Homo sapiens: one gene and its partners. The protein of the gene in region 1 purifies or fractionates together with the protein of each later gene. This does not show direct contact. Each region holds a gene or a part of one and is shown in the gene's direction. Other genes may lie near its edges.

Region 1 (3,935 bases):
AGAGCAACCTTTACTTTGAGGTTTTTTTTTTAGGAAAATTGCTAAATTTCATTGTGAGATTAATCAATACATAACAGCTCACAAACGTGGCATGTCGATAAGGGGACAACTTAAAAGTTAAGAAAATGATGACCAGCTAATGACAGCTATGCAAGATGGTAAAAAACAGAACAGAGAAAAAATGGAAGGTTGAAAAGGAAAATGTAGCAGGACAAGCCGGAGGAAACTTGGGCGTGAGGAACAAGTCATCAAGGCAATTGGAAATTTCTGTGGATATGACAATGATGTCAGGAAACTTTCGGGTGGGGCAGAAACTTGAGTGACAGATGTTGTTCAAAAACAATGTGATTCATGATCTTATTTACAGCAGGAAGAATCAGAGTTCCAGCTATTCCTAACAGCGACACTGCGGAGCTTAGGAGGAGAACTCCTTAGGGGATGTATCAGGTTTAAAACCACAACCCTCATTTTTCTTATCTATGGCTCTTACATGGGCTGGGAATTCTGAAACCTGGGAGAGGCGGTGATCAAAAACCTGGAGGTTAGAAGATTCCAAGTCATTCATTAAAGTCCCGATGCGGCCGGCCCCCAAGATCTCAAAAGGAAATATTGCCGAGTTCCGTTTCCCAGAGCATCTATTTCCCCTCGAGTATTGCAGATGTAATCATAAACACAAGCCAGTTACAGCCACAACTTCATGCTTTAGCGAGAACCCAGTGGCTCCTGCAAAGTCCTTACGCTGCTAGAAACCCCGCCCCCGTTCGTAACTATGGGAACGGCTGACACGCTGAGAGCCGGAGATAACCCTGTTCCGCCCCCTCCCTGACAGATACTGTTTCCCACTGTCTGTCCACATGGGCGCACCGCCTCACTATTGGCCAGGGCTCCAGGACTGTGCCTGGCCTCAGCCAGTAAACGGCCTGTGCACGTGCACGCCGGAGCCTCCCGATTGGCCAACACTCCCTGATCACGCACGGCCTTCCTGCGCCCACCCACGCGTGGGAGCGCCAATGAAATGACTCAGTGACCATCTACAACAAATCAGCAAGAAGCAGGGCTCGCAGCTGACCAATGGCCGCCCGCCGGGGGTGGGCTGTCCCGGCCCTTTTCCAGGCCCAACTGGGTTTGTTAAAGCGACAGGCCTCTCGGCGAGCCGGTGCCCCATCGGGTACCGCACGGCTGCCGCGGCGGCCTTACCCTGCCGCGAGCGCCTGTGACAGCGGCGCCGCTGTGCTCGCGACCCCGGCTCCGGGCCTCTGCCGACCTCAGGGGCAGGAAAGAGTCGCCCGGCGGGATGGGCGGGGAGGCTGGGTGCGCGGCGGCCGTGGGTGCCGAGGGCCGCGTGAAGAGCCTGGGTCTGGTGTTCGAGGACGAGCGCAAGGGCTGCTATTCCAGCGGCGAGACAGTGGCCGGGCACGTGCTGCTGGAGGCGTCCGAGCCGGTGGCCCTGCGCGCGCTGCGCCTGGAGGCCCAGGGGCGCGCCACCGCCGCCTGGGGCCCGAGCACCTGCCCCCGCGCCTCGGCCAGCACCGCGGCCCTGGCTGTCTTCTCGGAGGTGGAGTACCTGAACGTGCGCCTCAGCCTGCGGGAGCCCCCGGCCGGTAAGCGCAGGCGAGCGCCTGGGGTTCCCCCGCCAGGCTGCGGGGCCGGGGAGGGGCTGGGAGGCCGCGCACCCTCGGGATGCCCACCTGGCAGGTGAGATCAGGGCGGGCTTCCGGGGGTGGGGTCCGGCCTACCCTCGCGGGTAAGGAGAGACCGCAAGTCCTGGGTGCGCAGCTCTTCCTGGCGCCCCGCCCCTGGCCCGCCGGGCCTGACCGGGACCAGTGGCTCGGGATTTTCTAGGACCGCGACGGGAGGGGGCCATTGGGTGCGGTGGGAACCTGTGATTGGACAATGGGGGATCCAGAAATCTAGGTCCTGTTCCTTCTGGTCCAAGAAAGGGACGGTGGAACCGGCGGCTATGAGGTTCCATTCTGCGGTGCCCGTGTCCTATGGCCTCCACTCCTCCCTATCCTGCATACGTTCTTGGTTCATGATGAATTAGCAGAAATTTGGTTTGGGGAATAGGGAAGTAGTTTCTGAGGGGTAGGAGTTCAAAGGAAGTGTTTTCCAGACTTGATCATCATGCTTGGTTTCCCTCTTCTGGGGAGCAGGGCAACTTAGTAAGAGTTGTACCTCTACCTGATACTGCTGCTGTTTCCTCCGCATCCTCTTCCTCCCCATCCTCCTCCTCCCCTCCTACCCGCTTCTTCCCCTCTCCCCCACTTCTCTCCACTCAAAATGCCTTTAGAGACAAGAGCATCAGGGCGTGTCGGGATTTCCCTTCCTGCTCACTTTGGTGAAGTCCAGTTCACAGTGTAGACTTTTCCAGAAGTACCCATGTGGGGACACACTACATGAGCGTTTCATTAATATTAGATACCAAAATTGGATCCCTTTAGTCACGAAAATACTAAGAACCATGAGTCTTACTCATTTCATGGATGGAAACTAGTTTAAACTTTTACGTTTTTGCCATGAGCTTTTATCTATCAAATAAAACAATGGTATGCACCTCCTCTCCTTGAAGAGTAAACGCATTATATCTATGTGCTATGTCTTATACAAAATATAATAGAATATGTGGTTTTGCCCTATCCTACTGTGGACACAGTGAACTCCTCGAGGTAAGTGATCATCTGAGTCATCCCAAAATTGTAGTGAGGAAAACTATATTTGGAACCAAAACTGCCTTTTGGATCAATGGGAACAGTGTGTTAGTGATAGTTCTTACTCCTTCATGCACTTTCCTCAGTATGGCTTCCAGGATCAACCCAGGCCCCAGTGGAAGCAGACAATACAATTTGCAAGATGGCCGAATGGAGTCAAGGACCTTGGGAGTGAGACATACATTGATTTTTGTCCAGGACTTTGGACTGTATCTCTGGGCCTATAACTGCTGAGTCAATAGATGTAAAATTAAAAGCAGTTGAACCTGGGATTAGCAATAAAAAACTGCTTTGGTAAAATCTGGGCTAACATTTTTTTTAATTCACAAGTCAGATGTTTATTCGTCACACACACACATATATACACATGTGGAACAGAATGTAAAAACTAGACAATTTGAAAATCTTAAACTTGTTTTAGAATGTATCATAGCACATATTGGCACAATTACATTTTGCTTAAAATCATAGTCTCTTTTAGTTGGGGAAAAAAAATAAGTCACCCCTAATATCTATAGCTTGGAAGAACTTAGCATCTTTACACAGTCTAGATTCTGGGGGTAATTTAATTACAAAACCTGGCTGTGTTTCAATCACCTAAGGAGATTTTTAGAAATCCATATTATGTAGCACTGGGATCTGTTTTCACAAATGCTCTCCAGATAATTCTTTGACATCCTTAATCTAATTCAACTACTTGCTGTCATTGTGATTGATTTTCTTCATATTTTTATTGAGAAACTGTAGTAGAAAACAAGCCAGAATCAGAGAGTTGGTCTCAGTTCTTGGTCACCCACCAGCAGTGTGACCTTATGCAAGTCCCTCACCCTTCCTGAGCCCCAGTCTCTGCCTCTGTAATGGTCTTCTGCATCCCACGGCTCATCAAAACCTTTAATTATGAGCTTTGGCTGTAAGGCCATTAGTGATTGAAACATCTTCCTGTGACTTTGTAGTGCTCAGTATACAAGACAGAAATAATGAGCGGTTGGTGCAGAAGCAGAAATGGGCACATGGTTCAGCTTGTGAACCTTTTACATTAAAAACAAAACTTGAGAAAGAGGAAAAGAAAACAAAGATTGAATTCCAAATATTATAACCCATTTTTATCAGTTTTTCCATTTCTTTTTCCTGTTTATGTTTTGAGATAGTTGAAAGTCTCATTTTAAATGATATAGATCCGATGTCGATTTGTTGCTTAATGAAAGGGGAACTTCATGTCTCTCATTC
Region 2 (3,500 bases), on another chromosome or scaffold:
CCACAATGGACTGTGGTATGTGATGCAAGTGGTGAGCCAGCTCCTGGACCCCCGCACCTCAGAGTTCACTGCGGCCTTTGTGGGCCGCCTTGTTTCCACCCTCATCTCCAAGGCAGGGCGGGAACTCGGGGAGAATCTAGACCAGATTCTTCGTGCCATCCTCAGTAAGATGCAGCAGGCAGAGACGCTCAGTGTCATGCAGGTAAGAGAGCAGTGGGGAGTGGGCTTCCTACTCCCTGGCTGATAGAAATGAAAATTCGTATTTTGGTCCTGAGTTATTTTATTTTACCCTCTTACTAGCCTTGTAGGACAGTTAAGTAAAATGGGACCTGTCTGATCTGTTTGGCCTAAGAAACATGGACAAGGAAATCTCCCATGTTTTCTTGTCCTGTGGATAATACCCTCAGTGTAGACTGTATTTCTTATCTGACTGGCCAGTTCCCTCTCATCTCCTATGTCTCTGAAATTGATTTCCCTGAAGCAAATGTCCTTATTTTCTCCTAGTCCCTGATCATGGTGTTCGCTCATCTGGTGCACACTCAGCTAGAACCTCTCTTGGAGTTCCTGTGTAGCCTCCCAGGACCTACTGGCAAACCTGCTCTAGAGTTTGTGATGGCTGAGTGGACAAGCCGACAGCACCTGTTCTATGGACAGTATGAAGGCAAAGTCAGGTAGAACCTCATCTTTCTTTTCTGGGCATTCTGCCACCACTCATATTTCTTTTTTTTTTTTTTTTTTTTTTTTTTTTTTGAGACAGTCTCGCTCTGTCGCCCAGGCTGGAGTGCAGTGGCACAATCTTGGCTCACTGCAACCTCCACCTCCTAGGTTCAAGCAATTCTCCTGCTCCTGCCTCAGCCGTCCGAATATTACACACATGCACCACCATACCCAGTGAATTCTTTGTGTGTGTGTTTTTAGTAGAGAGAGGGTTTCACCATGTTGGCCAGGCTGGTCTTGAACTCCTGACCTCAAGTGATCCACCCACTTCGGCCTCCCACAGTGCTGGGATTACAGGTGTGAGCCACTGCTCCTGACACATATTTCTTTTTTTTCCTGATTTGCTCCATTGATTTTTGTTTGACATTTCAAATGGCTCTCTGTATTCCCTTTTCCCTGTCTTTCTTTATTGCTAACGCACATATGTGAATAGCTGCCATCTTGAAATCCCCAAAAGACAGTCAACACAGGTAGACTATATATTTCTGGTCTCTGTTTACAAGAGATCCCTTCTCTACCACAGACTTCACACAGCTAAGTGCTGCTAGTGGCTTATTTTCCTTTATAAGCCCAAGCCTTGGCCAGGCACAGTGGCTCACACCTATAATCCCAGCACTTTAGGAGGCTGAGGCGAGCAGATCACCGGAGGTCAGGAGTTCAAGACCAGCCTGGCAAACATGGTGAAACACTGTCTCTACTATAAATACAAAAAATAGCTGGATGTGGTTGTGGGTGCCTGTAATCCCAGCTACTCGGGAGGCTAAGGCAGGAGAATCGCTTGAACCAAGGAGGCAGATCACGCCATTGCACTTCAGCCTGGGCGACGAGCGAAATTGTCTCAGAAAAATAAAAATAAAAAACCCAACCTTCTAACCCTGGCTTCCTAACTTTTTATCCTGGATTTTTATACCACTGATTCTTATCACCTCGTTGCACCTTACAATATGGTGCAACCTTAGCTTTGTTCAAGAAGAACAGGTCACCTGTAATCCCGGCACTTTGGAAGACTGAGGTGGGCGAATTGCTTGAGACCCACCCGGGCAACATGGTGAAACCTGTGTCTACCAAAAAAATACAAAAATTAGCCAGGCACGGTGGCGCATGCCTATAGTCCCAGCTACTTGGGAGGCTGAGGTGGGAGGATCACCTGAACCCAGGGAGGTCAAGGCTGCAGTGAACCATGATCACACCACTGCACTCAGCCTGGGTGACAGAATGAGACCCTATCTCAAAAACAACAACAACAACAACAACAACAAAAAAGCACAGATCTCATTAAACCACCTCATGAACTCTAAAATCTCATTTTCAGCTGAACTCTCTTAGCTCTCCTAATTAGTTGTTAACGGAATTTTCACTATCAAATAGAGGGTCTTAGGACATAATTGCTTATCTCCTTGGAGTGAACTCGAGATGGGCGGCTGATTGACCTTTTTTTGGATCTTCCTTGCCAGCTCTGTGGCACTCTGTAAGCTGCTCCAGCATGGCATCAATGCAGATGACAAACGGCTACAGGATATCCGTGTGAAGGGAGAGGAGATCTACAGCATGGATGAGGGCATCCGCACCCGCTCTAAGTCAGCCAAAAGTGGGTGCTGCTGCGATTCTTCCAATCCTCTCCCTATACGAAGGGGCTAAGGATACCTGGGTGAAGGGAAGGAATGCACTGTGGTGTATATTTTTAAAACAATTGTTGGTGATGGGTTTGATAAAGAAGAAGCAGGAAACTTAGGTAAAAGGGATCAGAACATACGGTTTCTTCCTGTTGTGGAAAATGGACAAAAATAGGCCGGGCATGGTGGCTCACGCCTGTAATCCCAGCACTTGGTGGGAGGCCAGAGCGGATGGATCACTTGAAGTCAGGAGTTTGAGACTAGCCTGACCAACATGGTGAAATCCCGTCTTTACTAAAAATACAAAAATTAGCCAGGCATGGTGGTGGGCGCCTGTAATCCCAGCTACTTGGGAGGCTGAGGCAGGAGAATCGCTTGAACCTGGGAGGCAGAGGTTGCGGTGAGCAAAGATCGTGCCACTGCATTCCAGCCTGGACAACAAAATGAGACTCCGTCTCAAAAAAAAAAAAAAAAAAAAAATGCAGGCGTGGTGGCTCACACCTGTAATCCCAGCACTTTGGGAGGCCGAGGTGGGTGGATCGCCTGAGGCCGGGAGTTCGAGACCAGCCTGACCAACATAGAGAAACCCCGTCTCTACCAAAAATACAAAGTTAGCCAGGCATGGTGGCGCATGCCTGTAATCCCAGCTACTCGGGAGGCTGAGGCAGGAGAATCGCTTGAACCCGGGAGGTGGAGGTTGCAGTGAGCCAAGATCACGCCATTGCACTCCAGCCTGGGCAATAAGAGCAAAACTCTGTCTGAAGAAAAAAAAAAGACAAAAATAGTCTCAGGCACCAAGCATCCCAGCTTCCAGCTTCATTCAGAAGCGTGGGCACAGATAGTCAGCATGTCTTTGTTACTGAGTTGCCTTTGGCCTGTAACTCCAATGATTTGCAGGTAGGGAGTATAGAGCTGCTATCTTTAATGTAGATTTATAATTACCTCCGCTGTCTCTCAAATTCTAAGTCATTGGGACTGGAGTACTGGCTCTATACAGTTCCTTGGTTTCAGAGCTTTATTACTAACAAGACTGTATCTCCTTTAATCCCTGAACTCTCATCTCTCCCAGCTTCTGAACTGTTACAATACCAAACAATAAAGTTATTTAACTTTAAGTCACTCTTTGGAGACTGGATATAGTCAGGTACAGTGAAAGTCTGAGGGGTGGTG
Region 3 (3,500 bases), on another chromosome or scaffold:
CAGTTGATTGCCAGTCTTATGCCATCTGTACTATACCCACCTACTCCCAGATTATTTTGAAGCAAATTTCAGATATCACATTATTTCATCTATTCAATTGGGTATCTATTCAGTAAATATTTCCATGTATTTCTCTAAGAGAGTTTTACAAAAACCATAATCACAATGCCATTATCATACCTAAAACATTAACAAAAATTCCTTAATATCATAAAATATCCAGTCAGTATACATGTTTCATATTTCCTTAATTGTCTTCTGGTTGTTGTTTTGCAGGTTAAATTTGGATCCAAATAAGTTTCTTACATTATGATTGATTGATAGGTCTCTTGCATATCTATAGATTTTCTCCATGTTTCTTTTTTTCCTTGAATGATCTCTCTTTGCAATCTTGTGTTGAAGAGAATGAGTCATTTGTTATGGAGTTCCCCACAGTCTGGATTTTGCTAATTGCATTCCTCAGGTGCCATTTAATATGTTTCTCTGTTTCTTGTATGTCCTGTATATTGGTTGTTAGATCTAGAGTCTTGACTGGATTCAGAGTCAGTTTTTTTCCACAGCCCATTTCATAGACTGTGTGTGAACTTCCACCAGGAGGTTCATAATGTCTGGTTATCTGGTACATTCACTTTTAAAAGCTTTCGATGCTGTAGTTTGCAAATCATTTTAACTATTGAGAACTTGATACTCAAGCACAAAGCTGTTTTATCTGGAGTGGGTATGAAAGGCCAGAGCCCCATGTCCCTAAGCTACCCCATCACAAGTCTTCTGGCTCCTGGTATCCCTTAGGAAACCTTACGGGAATGCCAAGTTGCTGGAAGAACTTAGTTTGAAAACTACTGGTTTAAGCAATGTTTGAAGCAGTATTAAACTTACAAACTGAAAGTTACTAGCAGAGACCAATAGCTTTTAATAATATAATTGGGATTTTAGGGAAGGTAATTCTTTAGTCCCTGGGACAAAAGACTTCGTCTTTAATTTCACAGTCCCGAAGTCTAAGATGTCAACTATTAATATAGAGCTCCTGCTTTTTGAGTATTTTTAGGATTTTTTTTCCAAAGATGGAAATAACTTTTCTCCCTAATTAGAAATGTAATAAATGCCCATAATGAAAGTAAATATTTAGACCTACACTGCTTCACCTCAGTACTACTGAGATTTTGTGCCAGATAGTTCTTTGTTGTGGAGGCTGTTCTATGCATTGTAGGATGTTTAGCAGCACCCCTGGCCTCTACCCACCAAATGACAGTAGCACCCCTACCCCATTTTGACTAGAAATGTCTCCTGATATTGCCAAATGTCCCCTGGTGAGCAAAATTCCCCCTATTCCCCTATTTGAGAAACTTTAGTTTAGACAGATCAGAAAAGTATAAAAAACAAAGTAAAAACTACCCAGTTTACAGGTTTCAGTCCATAAGATACAGAAGAGAACATGCAAGACTAGAAATGGAGCTAAAAGCCATGTACAAATAACTGGCATAAAACCTTGGATTTTAAAGCATGAAATGGGAATACATGAGTCACTTGAATGGTCTATTATGAGTATATAGACCTTATAGAAGGTAATGGAGACAGCAATCAGTTTAGGTAACTCCTGCGTAAGATGGGACATAGCAAGATTAAACTGTGTGATCATAAGCTGCCCCTCTTTGAGATGTGCAGCTTGCCTGAGTTGGCCTTTCTTTGTGTGCCTTCTGTGTGTAGTGATAGGTACATTGCAGGCTGTCAGAATAAACAGGTGTGGCAGAGGATTGTTGGACAAACCTTGTACATGTATAGTTGCTGAAAAGCCAGAAGTTATTTATAACTTCATTCACCTTGTGGAAGTAAAGGAAAAGCTTTTTCTTATCTTTTATAGATATTTATTTCTCAGAATTAAATTCTTTATATTATGCCTAGAAAAATGTAAAAATTCTACTGAATTTTTTCAAATTGTTCAAAATTCTATTGAAGCTTTTTAACTTTGGGGAAACCAAAAGAAATGCTCTTTTGGATTTTAGTCATTCAGGGTCATGTAACTAAAAATGCAAGTTCTTTTTTTTTTTTTTCCGTTTTAAGTGGAGTTTATTTAACACTAAGAGATAAAGGGTTGTTAACAAACACAATGACAAATGGACATCTGATTGGGATGAGGCATTATCCTGTACACATAATGTTGATATTTTTGTGTACCCTCAGTGCATGGCATTTACACATAGAGCCACTACTGCACAGCACAAGAGTATCTGAAGAGGCTGAATCAGAGTAAGGCTGTTTAAAAGACTGAAATTTTTTAGTATATATATTCTGCATGAAAACAGAACTTTTGAACTGGCAGGTAGAAGGCAACTCTGCCAAACACTACAGTTAAAGCCCCCACTTTAGTGCACAGTTCCACCCCTTCCATCTGCATGCGTGACACATTAACAGTATTTAAAGGTAAACGAGGCACTTTGTGGCAACTGCAGCCATCGTTATGAACATATTGCACAAAATTTCTAGAACTAAACATTTAACTTGTACCCTACTTTTATAAAATTGCAAGTTTTGTGTAGTACCTTAACTTTATTATGAAGTAGTATATCAGATAATACTTTAAGGTTATTTGTTGGCCCTTTGTGGAAGGTGGACCTTACAGTTAATGGCAGGCAGATTGGTATGAAGGAGTAGGGTTGGGTGTGGGATCTGGAGGCAGGATTAAAATGAGTTTGTAATGGGAGAAATGGTGTCTACCTTATTATCTTTGCCTTGGGCTGTACTAATCTCAGACGGTGTATTTCATGATAGAAAGTTAACAAAGAAATTTAAAAATAAACCTCTGTTAGAATGTGTACTCTTTTTAGCGTAAGACCTCTTTAATGTTATTCACACATTTGACACCAAAGTAGTTTTACCTGAACTCCTGATACAAATGGGAGCATCAGGGTTTAACCTGGCCTGGTCACTGTTCTCTTCAGAATTCCCTCCTTGCTGTGTCCTACAGATTGACTACTTCAACAATCAGATCATTGTTGACCTCGTGGAGCAACAGCACAAAGGGATCATTGCAATCCTTGATGATGCTTGCATGAATGTCGGCAAAGTCACCGATGAAATGTTTCTTGAAGCACTTAACAGTAAATTGGGCAAACACGCCCATTTTTCCAGCCGAAAGGTAATGTGTTTAATGACACCTTCTTCCTTTTATCTGTGAGGTTCTCCTTATTGTTTGATGGAGTTCAACGACTTTATATGTTGGGATAAAAGAATGTCCCCTTTAATAAGAAAGAAAAGTCATAAACATTCATTAAATGATTTGTTGCTGTGGATAAATTCTGCCTCTCTGGTTTATAGTATGAAGAAATTGATAAAATCATGTTAATCCAGGAGAGGGAGCTCCAGACTATGCAATTTGGTAGAAACAGGAAAAATGAGCATGATTCTTTAGAAAGCATGATGTCATTTGTAACCAATAGATGTAGAGTCCTTGCTCATGTGCTAGAATTTTACTCCTGCATCTGATAATTCTGGCATGGAAAATA
Region 4 (3,500 bases), on another chromosome or scaffold:
ATGGACTTGATTTCTTGACCTCGTGATCCGCCCACCTCGGCCTCCCCAAGTGCTGGGATTACAGGTGTGAGCCACTGCGCCGGCCCTTCTTTTTAAAATGGAATAATAGGCCGGGTGTGATGGCTCACATCTGTTATCCCAGCACTTTGGGAGGCCAAAGTAGGAGGATCATTTGAGCTCAGGAGTTCAAGACCAGCCTGGGCAACATAGTGAGACCTGTCTCTACAAAAAAAAAAAAAAAAAAAAAAAAGAAGAAGAAGAAAGGAAAGAAAAAAAAGATAAAATGGAATAAAAGTGCAGAATGCTGACTCCCTCGAGGCTTTTCCTAACCATTCTATTCTATGGTGGATGCTACGGTCAGCATGTTTTTTTAATTGTTGTTTTTTGTTGGTGGGGGGTGTTTAGATCATTAAAGAAATGGTTTCATCATCCACTTTCTCTCATGTCCCTTTTCTCATCAGCTGGCATATTCCAGGCCATGTGTCTCCTGATCTGTGCCGAGATGTACCAAGTGTCCAGACTGCAGCACATCTGTGAGCTGTTCATCATTACCCAGCTGCAGAGCATGCCAAGCAGGGAACTGGCATCCATGAACCTTGATATAGTTGACCTGCTTAAAAAGGCCAAGGTAATTGACTCTGTGTATCTGATAGCCTAGTTTTTTATAAAATATTTTTCAAATTATACTATTTTAAAATTTATCATTTTTTAACATACGTTAATACTAGTCTTAGTTTGGAAGTTTGGCTAATGAGGCTAAAGTGCCTTCACAACAGTTTATCTGGCTAGATAATTTTGAAGCGTTAGGGTTTGTGTGCAGTCCCTTTTATAAGGAGGCAAAATGTCCAGATACGGAATTTTTTTAACTAAATAGTGGCCCTTAGTAGAGTCATTTGAATGTGGTGCTATACTATGTCACATAGGCATTGTAGGAAATAGAATTTATGTTGAATTTCCCCAAACAATCACATCTTCAGGTTCCTAAAAGGGAAATGACAGAATTGGTCCATATATACTGATAGCGATGGTTAAGCTAAACTAATTTACTTCTTCATTTTTTCATCCATATAATGAACATGTTTTGAAGTTTCAGTTGTATGTAGGAGATATTGGTGTGCCTCATTTATCCTTGCAGAATGCCTTTTGTTTTCATGTCTCACCTTATTAGCAATCACTGCCGTATGTGTACATGCTTCTTCTGGGCCTCTTGTAAGCTCGGAGTCTTTTGTTTTCAATAATTATATCATTACTGATTTTAGAGAACGGGGGTGGGGGAGTTACATAATTAAGTTAATTTTAAGTAACTGCAGTTACAGAGGCCCTAAATTATGAATCAGAGCCAGGTCTGTAAATAAACTAGGACTACTGTGTTGAAATCTACTTCCCAAACCCCCAGATGTGCTCACAGTCAAAAACCTGCCAAATCCTTATTCCCACTTTCTTTCATTCCTGGAAGCAGAAAGCTTATTCAGATGGGCCATCCTACCGTTGGCCATTCTGCCATTCCATCCACTGCCCGAGACAGTTTCAGCACTTGTGGTAGTTATGGCACACTCTTGTGTACTCAACTTGTGGTAAGCCGAGCCCTCTAGGTTTTTTTCACAGGAATATATTTGTTCAATCACTACAGAGTGTCAGTACTTCTTGAACTATTATCTGGCATCCAACATGTCTATACCTATCAACTTTGACGTCCAGGGTTACAAAAGCATGACAACTTTTATCTCCATCCACATTGCTAAAATGGAGCCACATGATGGGGCAAATTCCAGATCTGTGACAGCTGAATGCTTGCCTCCAAGCTGAAACGAATTCATTCATCAACACTTCTGTTTATAGAAGGGAATTTATTTGAAGCATCTAGGTCTTCTCCTACTATCTCCTTAACTATTTTGGACTTCATTTCTCTCATAATCAAGTCTTACGATCACATGTATTTAATTAGGGCTAAAAACAAATTTAAAAATTGAGTAGGGCCAGGCGTGGTGGCTTACGCCTGGAATCCCAGCACTTTGGGAGGCCGAGGCTGGCGGATCACGAGGTCAGGAGATCGAGACCATCCTGGCTAACACAGTGAAGCCCAGTCTCTACTAAAAATACAAAAAAAAATTAGCTGGGTATAGTGGCGGGTGCCTGTAGTCCCAGCTACTTGGGAGGCTGAGGCAGGAGAATGGCGTGAACCCTGGAGGCGGAGCTTGCAGTGAGCCGAGATCGTGCCACTGCACTCCAGCCTGGGTGACAGAGTGAGACTCCGTCTCAAAAAAAAAAAAAAATTGAGTAACACTGATCTCTTTTTGTAAAACGTTTACATTCATCTCATGATAAATAGCTCCCCTCTAAATTTAGTTTACAATTTTTAAAATTCTTTCTAGTAGTTTCACAATCTCAGTTCATTTTTGATGTATCATTTTCATACTATTCTAACAAGTTGTTCATACTTTTTAAAAAATTGGACACAAGTTTCTTTTTCCTTATCTTTTAGTATCTTCTTAAATTGTTTATGTATAAGAGAACTTCCCGTGTGGTCACATTGATTTCTTTAGGTGCCTCCCCTCACTGCCCCCCTACACTTGGTTCCTCATCAGAATCATTTTTGATTGCACTGTCAGAAATTCTTGACTTGTTTTCCCTGATTCTCTGGTTTCTGACTCTGTGATTATCCTTATCTTTTCCCCTTGAATTTCAAACAATCTAAGATACAAGCTCATTTTGAATTTTGTTTCTGAAGACTTTTTATTTTCTAAGATTAAGCCTAAATTTACCAGTTTTCCTGTATTCTTTTCCTGGTGGTTCCTAATTTGGCAATTGTGAATTCCAGATAACAGAAGTTTTCTTCCCAAGTTTTCTTTGAAGTTCCTAGTTTGAGATTTCACTTCACCAGTCAGTTCACCCTGTTGGTCAGAATTTGGTTAACTTTTGCCTTGCCATTTCTCTGACTTTTAGGAGTGAAATTGTCTTCTGGCAGAATTAGACTCCCAGTAGCTCTCCAAATAATCAAAATTTCTGAACACTCTGCCAGTTTTGTACTGTGTGTCAGGAAACATCATTCATACTTTCTTAGATAGATGAGCAGTGTGGGTATTCTCTCACTTCTCTGTCCATTTTCCCCTAACCTCTCTCAGTTCTTTACCATGATTTACCTTCAGGTTTCCATCAAGGAGGACTCTTAAAATACAAGAGTTGAGGTGGAGATTCCGTATCTCTACTCCTGTTTAAACCCTATCTGTTCAAACTTTGGTGATTCCTATGAAGTTGTATTTATTCTTGTATTAAAAATTTTAATGCATCTTCTTATTTATAATCTATATGTTAATATTTGGCTATCTGAGGCACAAGTTGTATTTCTGAGAGTTTCCAGGTACTTTCTTGTGAGTTTATGGGTATTTTCTCCACGTTCTTCTTGTAGCTCTTAAGTTCTATTGCATTTGGTTTATGGTTTTTTAATGCCTTTTTAAAAATTCTGTTGCTTATTTCAGTTTGAACCCATTTTCTTACGTCAA
Region 5 (3,500 bases), on another chromosome or scaffold:
TGTTCTGGGGATGTTATGAACACACTTGATTCCTGAGAGTCCACGCTTCCCCAGGGTTTTGTGTGGAATGAATAAATGCTGGTCAGAGGATGTCGTGGCCTTGTTAGCAGAAGGGGAGAGGAACAGAGGACTTTGCCTGGGTGGAAGTAGGTGGGGTTGATGGTCAGTGGAGTGGATTGTTTTTGGAATTAAGACTTATGACCCCATAGGGGCAGTCCATGGAGTAGCAGTCTTTATTTAGCAAAGTAGAAGCTTCCTGACTTCTGATTCAGTTTAGGGCTGACTACTCTTGGAATAAAAATGACCACAGGGTCTAGATATGCAACAAATAAATTTTCACTTATGTTTAACATCCATTTAGAAATTCCACATGAATTTCTAAAATCTAAATCTATATGAAACAGATATTCTTGAAATCAGTTTGATTGCAGTGATTGTTAAAAGCAGCATCTCAAATCACAGCATTTTTTTCTAGGAAATAAACTTTATTTTGAACACATGAACAATTTGGAAACATAGAAAACGAGTTTCCTTCTTAGGAGTGAATCAAATAATGGCCTTAGAAGACTGCTTTGTGATTTGAGACATGTTATAGAGGCTGTATTGTCACATTCATTTCTGCTTTTAGATTTCTTTTTGAATCTTTGAGGTCCAACTTGTCTTTTTGTAAGAGTATAAATTTCAGTCATCATCAGGCTAAGGTGTCTGAGGCAACTCCCAGGTACTGTTGTTCTGTGCGAGGAGAGAGGAACCAAGAAGACACACTCTTCCCAACCACACCACCATACACACACCTGGGATCCTTCAGGAAAGAGCTGATTCCTGTGGCTTTTGTTATTGTTTTGAGTCTCTGCTTTTTGTTATAACTGAACAGACTTTTCTTGTGACTAAGTTGATTGTGTTTGATGGTGTAATTAGGAATAATTATTAAAACAATATAGTGAGGAAGGAAGGAAACTTTTTTATTTCCGTTTTCCCAGAACACAAATGGAATCCTGGCCATGCTGGATGAAGAGTGCCTCAGACCTGGCACAGTCACTGATGAGACCTTCTTAGAAAAGCTGAACCAAGTATGTGCCACCCACCAGCATTTTGAGAGCAGGATGAGCAAGTGCTCTCGGTTCCTCAATGACACGTCTCTGCCTCACAGCTGCTTCAGGATCCAGCATTATGCTGGAAAGGTATGGGGGAGCTGTGAGCACCCAGTCAGGCCTGCCAAGTTACCCCTGCAAGGAGGCTGTACCTCAGAGATGGGCGTTCGAAACCCCATTAACTTGTGAGGACAAATTGAGCTGCTAAAGTGGTTGAATCGATAAATGTTCAATAGAAATAGAATCTGGACCATGTTGACTAAAATCTTATTAATACAGAAAATCAAAAGCAAAGCTAATGGACTTAATGAAGAGTCTAAATATATTTTTGAATCATCTTTATTATTTTCAAACTCTAAGCTATCCTATAAAAAATATCTATTAACACTATTGAAGGAGATTTGCCAGTACAAATTAAGAGTCAATAAAGACTTAAGGCTTTAAAAACACAAGCCATTTAGCAAAAATAATGAATTATTTGAGATTTTGAAATGACATTAGGGAAAATATTTACTTTTTTAAAACACTTATTTATTTGGTTAATATTTGGGGGAATTAATTTTATGTCTAATATATAAAGACAATGCTAAAAACAATCTTAATTGATTAATCTTTAGAATCCTGAAAGAATATTGATTAGAGCTAATACTTCCTTTTTCATAAAATTGCAAACTTCAAAGGGAAAAAAACTTCTTGATTATACATTTGTAAAAAGTATATAGTACCTGAATTACCTTTAATTTCAAAATGTTAGAACTTGGTACTTTATTTTTTTTATTAGCGTATATTATTAAAAGATAATTTCTGATCAGCTTTTCTGCTGCTCAGGATATTTATGAAAGTGTTAGTATTGTTTCTATTTTGCCCCATCTACTTTTAAACAGACTAGAATTGGTATGTGAGAACTAAAAAATAAAAGTAAAACCCCAGAATATGTTCAGACTCCTAAAAAATGCAAAATCCTTTGAAAATGTTATGATAACATTTTTGGAGTTTATTCTTGCAAATCCTGAATGGTAATAGAATTTATTTTGATCTTGTCTGTGATTTAGACAGATGGAATTTAAACTTGGAGGCGAACTCATTATGAGAGTGTGACTAACATGTCAGGGATTTTTTGATGGTGAAGGAAGTGGCTGCAATGTAGATAGTCTTGGAGTATTTTTAATAGTTGTTTGACATTATAGCATGCAATGTGCCTGTCATTGAGTTACATGTGCTGCTTATAGGTGCTGTACCAGGTGGAAGGATTCGTTGACAAAAACAATGACCTTCTCTATCGAGACCTGTCCCAAGCCATGTGGAAGGCCAGCCATGCCCTCATCAAGTCTTTGTTCCCCGAAGGGAATCCCGCCAAGATCAACCTGAAAAGGCCTCCTACAGCAGGCTCACAGTTCAAGGCATCCGTGGCCACTCTGATGAAAAACCTACAGACCAAGAACCCAAACTATATTAGGTATTTTTGGCACATGAAACTTTCACAGTTCAAATGTGAGAGCACCCCGAAGGAATATCATTTTTCCCTTTGCTTCAATCTGAGTGTAGCCCAAGCAGAGGGTAACTAAAATACTTACAGATTAAATAATACCTTATCTGGGATTGGCTTAAAAAATGCTCCACTATCCTTTCCCCTAAAATAAGAAAGTAAAAAAGTAAAGTGTGGTGGAGAAGATAGTAGATATTTAATGAAACTCAGTGGTTGAGACCTAGGGGTTTTCAACTTTCTGTATGTTTATTATTATTTTTTTAATGGCAAGTTAAAAAACAAAATGCAAGTGTTTTTTCTGGTCAGTGTTTTGCAGAAAACTCTTGTTGGCTTCATTTGGGATTCTTGTTCTATTAGCTTAGAGCACAGCATTGAAGCAAGTGCTTTAGTTAACTGCTCTGGCACTTCTTAGGAGACATGCACTTTTTTCTTCCCTGTGAGAGGTGTAGGCCTGGAGAAAGTAATGATTCCTAAAGCAATCTGAATTTTTTTCAAGGCAGTAGAAAGACCTTCTTAAAAAGGGCTGGGCGTGGTGGCTCACACCTATAATCCCAACACTTAGGGAGGCGGAGGCAGGTGGATCACCTCAGGTCAGGAATTCGAGACTAGCCTGGCCAACATGGCAAAACCCTGTCTCTACTAAAAATATAAAAATTAGCTGGGCGTGGTGGCAGGAACCTATAATCCCAACTACTTGGGAGGCTGAGGCAGGAGAATCGCTTGGAGGCAGAGGTTGCAGTGAGCCGAGGTCACGCCACTGCACTCCAGCCCGGGTGACAATACAAGACTCCATCTCAAAAAAAAAAAAAAAAGGAAAAAGCCTTCTGGGCTCTTCTCTTTTTCTGCTTCTAGGGCATCTTAGACAGAACTCTCTCTAGATTTAGTAAAGACCAACTAGGATTAGAGTTTGCTATGTGTGTATT
Region 6 (3,500 bases), on another chromosome or scaffold:
AAGAGGCATTTTCTTTTTACTTTTCATAGCAAAGAATACTTTTTATAAATGAGCTAAATGAGGTTAACAATCTCACTAAAAATTATAGCAGTTTTTATTCTTATTTTAAGAAAAAAATCTTTTAAAGCAGTAAAAAACAATCCCAACTAGTTTCTAATACAGTACCATGTGCATGTCTCTGCTACTAAATAAGTAACGAGCCCTTCAGATACAGGAAAATAATAGGAATTGAGATTTAAGTATCTGGCTAATTACAAGATACCTATCAAACAAGTTAGGACATCAAAAGACATTTAAAATCCATGTCTTCTGTGTGTAAACAAATCTTTCTTGTCATAGGGTTTTATGCTACCTACCTTCAAACATAGTTGAAGTATCATAGATCTTTACCTTTAGTCTAGCTTGGTATTGCATGCTTGTAATTAAAAGCCTTTGACTGTATGTTTAGTTATTAAATGGCCTTTACTGTTATTTTTATGTGCCTCTTGAAATCTTTCATTTCTTAAGTTCCAGCATCCAATTTTTGGATGAAAGAGGCATTTTCTTTGCCTCTTAAGTTCCAGCATCCAATTTTTTTAAATGTGCCATGATTTCTTTTTCAGAAAATTAAAACCAATACATTATTAGTGGTTTTAATACAGAAGCTCTGCTTTTTGTCAGTAAAAATGGGTTCTGTCACATACGTGTTTTAAGCATCCAGGTCCAGGCATAATTCAGTATCCATTTAGCCAATCTGAATAACAATTTATTAGGATGAAAGGGAAGAAATCTTAAAGTGAATTCTGAAAGCCCTTTTGTTGCAGTTCGGGAGTAGTGGAAACTTAATTCAGTTTGGTGGTGAGAAGAATGACTGTCTGCCAACCCCAATTGCTCAGTTGTCTATCTGTAATTCTCTGTTTTTTACATGGGCAATAAAAGTTGAACTGACTCTTGTCACATAGAGTCAGTCAACCATTAGAAAAAAGGTATGGGGTAGAACTAGGTGGTGAAAGCTAGGACTTGTTTGTCAGTGTTGTAGAATTTTGTTTTTTTAATTGTTAGTAATGCATAGATTCAGAATACAAAGGCTTTGTTTAAAAACTAAAAACTTCCACGTTATCTCTCCTCTCCTTCCTCTCACCCCTGCCCCGCCCCCCGCCCTTTTTTTTTTGAGACAGAGTCTCACTCTGTTGCCCAGCCTGGAGTGGAATGGCACCATCTTGGCTCACAGCAACCTCCAACTCCCGGGTTCAAGAGATTCTCCTGCCTCAGCTGGGATTAGAGTAGCTAGGATTAGAAGCACACACCACCACGCCTAGCTAATTTCTGTATGTTTGGTGGAGACGGGGTTTCACCATGTTGGTCAGGCTGGTCTCAAACTCTTGACCTTGTGATCTCCCTGCCTCAGCCTCCCAAAGTGCTGGGATTACAGGCATGACTCACCGCGCCCAGCCTCCTCCTTTTTAAAAAATAAAACACTCGTCTTTGGCTTAAAACCTGTTATTATTTAAAGAAAATGGTATGTCATGACATTTCTAGCAGCTGAAACCACCTCTCCCCTCTTTTGTAAGTGAAATATTAGGTGGTAATGCAACATACATGATTAACTTCTACCTTGTCCTCTGGCCTCTGAGATATTCCTAAAGAATACCCTATGTTTCATGGACTGCTGTTAGAAACAACTAAGCTAGTACTATCTTTTATAGCTGCCTGTGTTCTTATAGTCTTAACTTCTAAAGAGAGACATTATTTACTCTGGGCTGTTTTCCAATACCAACAACCAACTCTCTTGATTTCTGTGGACACCAACTGGGTGTCCTACAAATCAATTCAATTCTGACACTACCAGGATTAGCATCACATCCCACAAGTTATGGGCTCGGTCTTACAAACCGCCCCCACTTAAGACACTAATTGAGTCCAGAACCTCTCATATTTCTGATGATGGAGTAGCCTACAGAACTTAGAAAAACAGTTGACTTTCTTGTGCTGATGAAGGATCCACCTCATGAGCAGCCACATGGAAGCGATGCATAGGGCAAAGTATAGGGGAAGGGGCACAGAGCTCTTGTGCCCTCTCTAGGAACACCACCCTCTCTAGGAACACCACCCTCTCAGCATCTCGATGTGTTTGCCAACCTGGAAGTTCAAGAGTTTTTATAGAGCTGAATCTTGAGTCCCTTCTCCCCTTCCCAGAGGTTGGTGGTTAGGGTAAAAGTTTCAACACTCTAATCAGTTGATCTTTCTGGTAACCAGCTGTATCCTGAGGCTGTCTAGTGTTCCCACACCAAGTTACCTCATTAACATAAACTCTGTTGACCCCGAAGTCTCTAGTGATCCTTCCACCTTAGCCTCCCAAGTAGTTGGGACTGTAGGTGCACGTCACCACTTCTGGCTAATTTTTAAATTTTTTGTAGAGACAGGGTCCCACTATGTTGCCCAGGCTAGCCTTGAACTGCTGGCCTCAAGTGATCTTCCAGCCTCAAGTGATCTTCCCACCTTGACCCCCCAGAGTGTTGGGATTATAGGTGTGAACTGCTGTGCCTGGCCCAAAGGACTCATTATAAATAACAAAAGACGGTCCTGTCGCTCAGGAAATTTTCCAAGAGTTTTAAGGGCTCTGAGCCAGCAACTGGCTGCAAAGCCCAAATGTATTTTTTCGTTATACCATATATTTAATATTATATTTGGTGATCTTCACCTAATCATCTTCATTTACCTGGTCTTCTGTCAGTGGGAGCAGCCATTGAGACCATGTATGAAAACCCATTCCCTCATTCATACAGTTACATAGTATAGGAAACTATCACCTAAATATAAATACAGTGGCTTTGATCTGTAACCCAAAGAAAAAAATAACTTTACATCTCGATGACCCAGTGTGTGTGTATATATTTATAGGTACATATGCACATAAATAACTAAAACAAGTTACAGAAAGTAATATTCTTGCTAGGGTATAGTACAGAATATCTAATATTCTCTATTTCATTTTTAAAAATTATTGTTCAGGACCCATAAACTGATTTCATCACTAGTGGGAGACACCACCGTTTTAAAAATATTTACCAATTGAAATTAGGTTTCTCTAAGGCTAATGTTTCTTTTACCTCATGTCAGCTTTTGTTTCATACATAATTGCTGTCAAATCATCTAGCAGTGCTTCCAGTTGATGTGCAATTTTCTTGTCTATTGGAGATACTTGTCACAAGATGTTCACTACTATTTGTCCATTGCCATGTGTGAAACCTGCATCTGGTGCAACATGCTGATGGGAAGAGTGCCTGAAGTAACTCCCATTTTCCCAACAGTTTGGTAGAGAGCGTATGGACTTGGTGCTGCATCCATTCTAGAGTACTCTTGCTCCTTGTTGGCACTGTTACTTGTGATTACAAGGCCCTGAATTCATAAACTTAGAGATAAAAAACTTCCTCGAGCTTTGACCTTTTCAGTTACTTAATATTTTTCAAAATTCATATCATGCACTTGTACTCCAATTTTAATCTCTTTAGGGAACTTAC
Region 7 (3,500 bases), on another chromosome or scaffold:
ACCCGAATCGAGGCTTTCCCAAGATATTTAACGACAAAACAGTAGGTTAGTGCAGTAAGTCCTTCCTTTCTGCCTCTGATATTCAAGCTGTGGGATTGTGACTTTGAAGACCGGAATCGGTGAGGAGCAGTGGATTTGGATTGTGCAGATTACGGCTGCTTTCATATTGCTCACCTGCCCAACTTTTTAATGGTTTTCAATCTGCTAGATTGGTCCTTATTGCATCAACTAAATTTGGTATTTACTTTATTCTTTCAATAAATGTTTATTGACATCAGTTACATGCTGAGCACTAGGGATAAATGGAAGACAATATAATCCCTGCTGTCTAGCACCTGACTAGCTGGCACATCCAATAGTAATGGGCCCTGCCTGGGCTCCTGTGGACATAAGAGGAGATAGAGCTCAGACTGGGAGGTCAGGGCAGGCTTCCTGGACAAGGTGGTGTTCGAACTGTTTTTGACGATTCAGTGGGAGTTGCCGTGGCTGGGACTGTGGATGTGATATGGTGTTGAAGAAAAGGTCATTCCAGGTAGAGGAGACAGTGTGAGAAGGCACAGGCACATGTGCCTATTTGGGGAACTGCAAGGAGCCCATTGTGCTTGGAGCATTGGGGAGGGAATGGGGATTTAGGGTGATAAACTAGAGAAGTAAGTGAGGTGTTAAATTACTACCCCCACTTCTCACTTCTAGCCTTACCCCAGAATCCACCGACAGAGACACGGAATCCAAATGCAAAGCCATTCAAAGGATCAGGTAGTAGCCAGATCAGAGCAGCAGGGAGGGGTAGACTCACAGAAGCATGGGATTAGGGCTGAGAGGAGCCTAGAAACCAGCCTTTTGCCAAGTTTCCCACGGGGGGGCGTGCCTGGGTGTGCGTGTTCGGATGCTGAGACTCAGGAACTCTCAGGTAGTCAGGAACGTGGTGATGAGCAAGGGGCTTCTTAGTGTGCTGCCCCTGAATCATCACAGGTGAGCTGTCCAGGGGCCGTGGGACAGGCTTCTCACCATGGGCAGGGTGGCCGAGTCTCACGGAAACCGAGATGGTGTCCTCGGAGGCTGGCTCCCACTGCAGGTCCGGGAGCAGGCCAGCCCAGGTGCAGCATTGAAGCCACATGTGAGGATTTGGGCCACACTTCACCCCTTACCACTAACGTTCCCTGTACACATACAATTCCACTGACTTCACAGCGACCTCTGGGGGACGGGGCCTGTGCCTTATATTCACCATGCTTTGTATTCTGTGGTGTCTGGGCCTGGACGCATACAGTGAGGATTTACCGAGTCTGAGTGCATAGGGTGAGGATGTAGCTGTCCTTGTTTAACTCTTCATGGTACTGTTGAAGGCCCCAAATTGAAGAATCCCTTCAGAGGTTGTTACGGTCAAAATGTCAATCGTTACGAATTATATTGTAGTTGGGATTAAAAGCACCACGGAATACGAGGCACAGGTCGCGTCTCCCAGAGGTCACTGCAAAGTCAGTGGAGTTGTATGTGCACGAGGAATGTCAGTGAGGAATGTGGCCTGCTCTTTCTCATCCTCTCTGACAGAATGCTTTGGGGAGCCACAGCTTTGGCTCTCTGCTTTTTGTCCAGTGGAAAACTTGAGTGGCTTGAACTGGGAGAAGCAGACTGTGGGAGCTGCACTTAGCAGGAGCCGCAAAGCCCTGGCTGTTCCACTTTAAGCTGGGTCAGTGGCAAACACCAGAAAGCATTTGAGGAAAATGGAGAAGCCTGAAGAGGGAAGGTGACTGAGGAGGGGTAATGGCTTTTAAAAGAAGCATTGTTTGATGGTTATTTTTGGCATCTTTAAGTGAATTCTAATTCTGTTTTTCTAATAGGTGGAGAGGCCAGGAAGGTCTACGATGATGCCCACAATATGCTGAACACACTGATTAGTCAAAAGAAACTCCGGGCCCGGGGTGTGGTTGGGTTCTGGCCAGCACAGAGTATCCAAGACGACATTCACCTGTACGCAGAGGCTGCTGTGCCCCAGGCTGCAGAGCCCATAGCCACCTTCTATGGGTTAAGGCAACAGGTATGGAAGGTGTACTGACAGCCAGCACACCGCTTTCGCTTGTGAGTTTAAGCACTACACAAAAGAGCTTTGCATAAATGAGGGTCTGCTTCACCTCCTCCCAAATGACCAATCACATGCCCAAGAAGTGACCAGTCACACGCCCAAGCCCAAGCCATCTGTGAGGACGAGGGAGAGAAGGCGCCACCATGGGTGTCAGAGGCAGGACCACTCAGCAGGAGTGAGGCGTTTAATATTGTGTTCCATGGATGGGCGAGGACCATTGCTGCTGTCTCAGGTGGTCACGTGTCAGGATCTCAGTCTTCTTAGCTTCTGAAGAAAGAGAACACTCACTTGTTCAAAAACGTAGGTTAATATCTATGCATATTATTAAAATAGACTGTCAGGTGGCTTCCCTTGAAAGGGGAAGACAGGTGGAAACAAACATTTGCAGAATGTATACCAGGTGCCAGGTGCATAGTAAGGTGCTTGATGGTCATGCTTTTAATTTCCACACAGCCGTGTGAGGCAGTTTAAGTTTGTGTTTTACAGAGAAGATGAAGGATGATGGAGATTGTGCTGGGCCCCCCAATATAGAGAGGAGAGCCCAGCCTGTACATATCCCCAGTGGCCGTTCTTTGACTGTGCTGGCTTTTTTTCTTTCGAGTGACGAGAACAGACTCTTCTCAGCAACTTGTCTCTCATCCCCCCCACCTTTGAAAAGGCAAATATCATATGCATGTCCCTTTAGCTGCTGTAAAAAAGAGTGTCTTAATCAAGAATTGGAACCAGAATTCACCAGAGTCATTAACAAATTTAATAATTTGCAGAAAATTACTCTGTTTTACTGCCATTTTCAGTCGTTCAGAAATAATAATGTTGGCTGGGCACAGTGGCTCACACCTGTAATCCCAGCACTTTGAGAGGCCAAGGTGGGAGGATTGCTTGAGCCTAGGAGTTTGAGACTAGCCCCGGCAAGATGGCAAGACCCTGTCTCTACAAAACAAATTTAAAAATGAGCCGTGCACTGGGGAGTGCAGGCCTGTACTTCTTCAGCCAGCTACTCGGGAGGATGAGGCGGGAGGATCACTTGAGCCTAGGAGATCGAGGCTGCAGTAAGCCATGATCATGCCACTGTATTCCAACCTGGGCAACAGAGTGAGACCCTGTCTCTAAAAAACAAACAAAAAAGATAGTGGCGCATTTTAATCCCAACCACAATATAATTCATAATCATCCATATTTTTACCATAACAGCATCTGAAGGGATTCTTAAATTTGGGGCCTTCAGCAGTACCATGAAGAATTAAACAAGGACAGCTACATCCTTACCATATGCACTTAGGCTCAGTAAATCCTCACTGTATGCGCCCAGGCTCGGACGCCACAGAATATAAGGCACTGGGGTTCTAATGTTAAGTTCCAGCCCCTCCTCACTAGGGAATTTGTGGCTATTCTTTTACAGACATAACTGTTCAAAAAC

The links.
Region 2: the proteins of ARRDC4 (region 1) and IPO9 purify together in Homo sapiens (affinity purification with mass spectrometry; one large-scale study listed by BioGRID and IntAct). This does not show direct contact.
Region 3: the proteins of ARRDC4 (region 1) and MYO1D purify together in Homo sapiens (affinity purification with mass spectrometry; one large-scale study listed by BioGRID and IntAct). This does not show direct contact.
Region 4: the proteins of ARRDC4 (region 1) and RHOBTB3 purify together in Homo sapiens (affinity purification with mass spectrometry; one large-scale study listed by BioGRID and IntAct). This does not show direct contact.
Region 5: the proteins of ARRDC4 (region 1) and MYO1B purify together in Homo sapiens (affinity purification with mass spectrometry; one large-scale study listed by BioGRID and IntAct). This does not show direct contact.
Region 6: the proteins of ARRDC4 (region 1) and XPOT purify together in Homo sapiens (affinity purification with mass spectrometry; one large-scale study listed by BioGRID and IntAct). This does not show direct contact.
Region 7: the proteins of ARRDC4 (region 1) and MTR purify together in Homo sapiens (affinity purification with mass spectrometry; one large-scale study listed by BioGRID and IntAct). This does not show direct contact.

What each region holds. Positions count from the first base shown.
Region 1 is NC_000015.10:97,959,568-97,963,502, forward strand, and holds the start of ARRDC4 (arrestin domain-containing protein 4), read left to right. Parts: upstream 1-1,135; 5' UTR 1,136-1,294; coding exon 1,295-1,601; intron 1,602-3,935. UniProt on the Homo sapiens protein: Functions as an adapter recruiting ubiquitin-protein ligases to their specific substrates. Plays a role in endocytosis of activated G protein-coupled receptors (GPCRs).
Region 2 is NC_000001.11:201,870,657-201,874,156, forward strand, and holds part of IPO9 (importin-9), read left to right. Parts: coding exon 1-202; intron 203-504; coding exon 505-671; intron 672-2,171; coding exon 2,172-2,305; intron 2,306-3,500. UniProt on the Homo sapiens protein: Nuclear transport receptor that mediates nuclear import of proteins, such as histones, proteasome and actin. Serves as receptor for nuclear localization signals (NLS) in cargo substrates.
Region 3 is NC_000017.11:32,755,125-32,758,624, reverse strand, and holds part of MYO1D (unconventional myosin-Id), read left to right. Parts: intron 1-2,962; coding exon 2,963-3,133; intron 3,134-3,500. UniProt on the Homo sapiens protein: Unconventional myosin that functions as actin-based motor protein with ATPase activity. Plays a role in endosomal protein trafficking, and especially in the transfer of cargo proteins from early to recycling endosomes.
Region 4 is NC_000005.10:95,783,336-95,786,835, forward strand, and holds part of RHOBTB3 (rho-related BTB domain-containing protein 3), read left to right. Parts: intron 1-461; coding exon 462-628; intron 629-3,500. UniProt on the Homo sapiens protein: Rab9-regulated ATPase required for endosome to Golgi transport. Involved in transport vesicle docking at the Golgi complex, possibly by participating in release M6PRBP1/TIP47 from vesicles to permit their efficient docking and fusion at the Golgi.
Region 5 is NC_000002.12:191,384,904-191,388,403, forward strand, and holds part of MYO1B (unconventional myosin-Ib), read left to right. Parts: intron 1-980; coding exon 981-1,181; intron 1,182-2,320; coding exon 2,321-2,547; intron 2,548-3,500. UniProt on the Homo sapiens protein: Motor protein that may participate in process critical to neuronal development and function such as cell migration, neurite outgrowth and vesicular transport.
Region 6 is NC_000012.12:64,410,892-64,414,391, forward strand, and holds part of XPOT (exportin-T), read left to right. Parts: intron 1-3,500. UniProt on the Homo sapiens protein: Mediates the nuclear export of aminoacylated tRNAs. In the nucleus binds to tRNA and to the GTPase Ran in its active GTP-bound form. Docking of this trimeric complex to the nuclear pore complex (NPC) is mediated through binding to nucleoporins.
Region 7 is NC_000001.11:236,889,292-236,892,791, forward strand, and holds part of MTR (methionine synthase), read left to right. Parts: coding exon 1-45; intron 46-1,841; coding exon 1,842-2,038; intron 2,039-3,500. UniProt on the Homo sapiens protein: Catalyzes the transfer of a methyl group from methylcob(III)alamin (MeCbl) to homocysteine, yielding enzyme-bound cob(I)alamin and methionine in the cytosol. MeCbl is an active form of cobalamin (vitamin B12) used as a cofactor for methionine biosynthesis.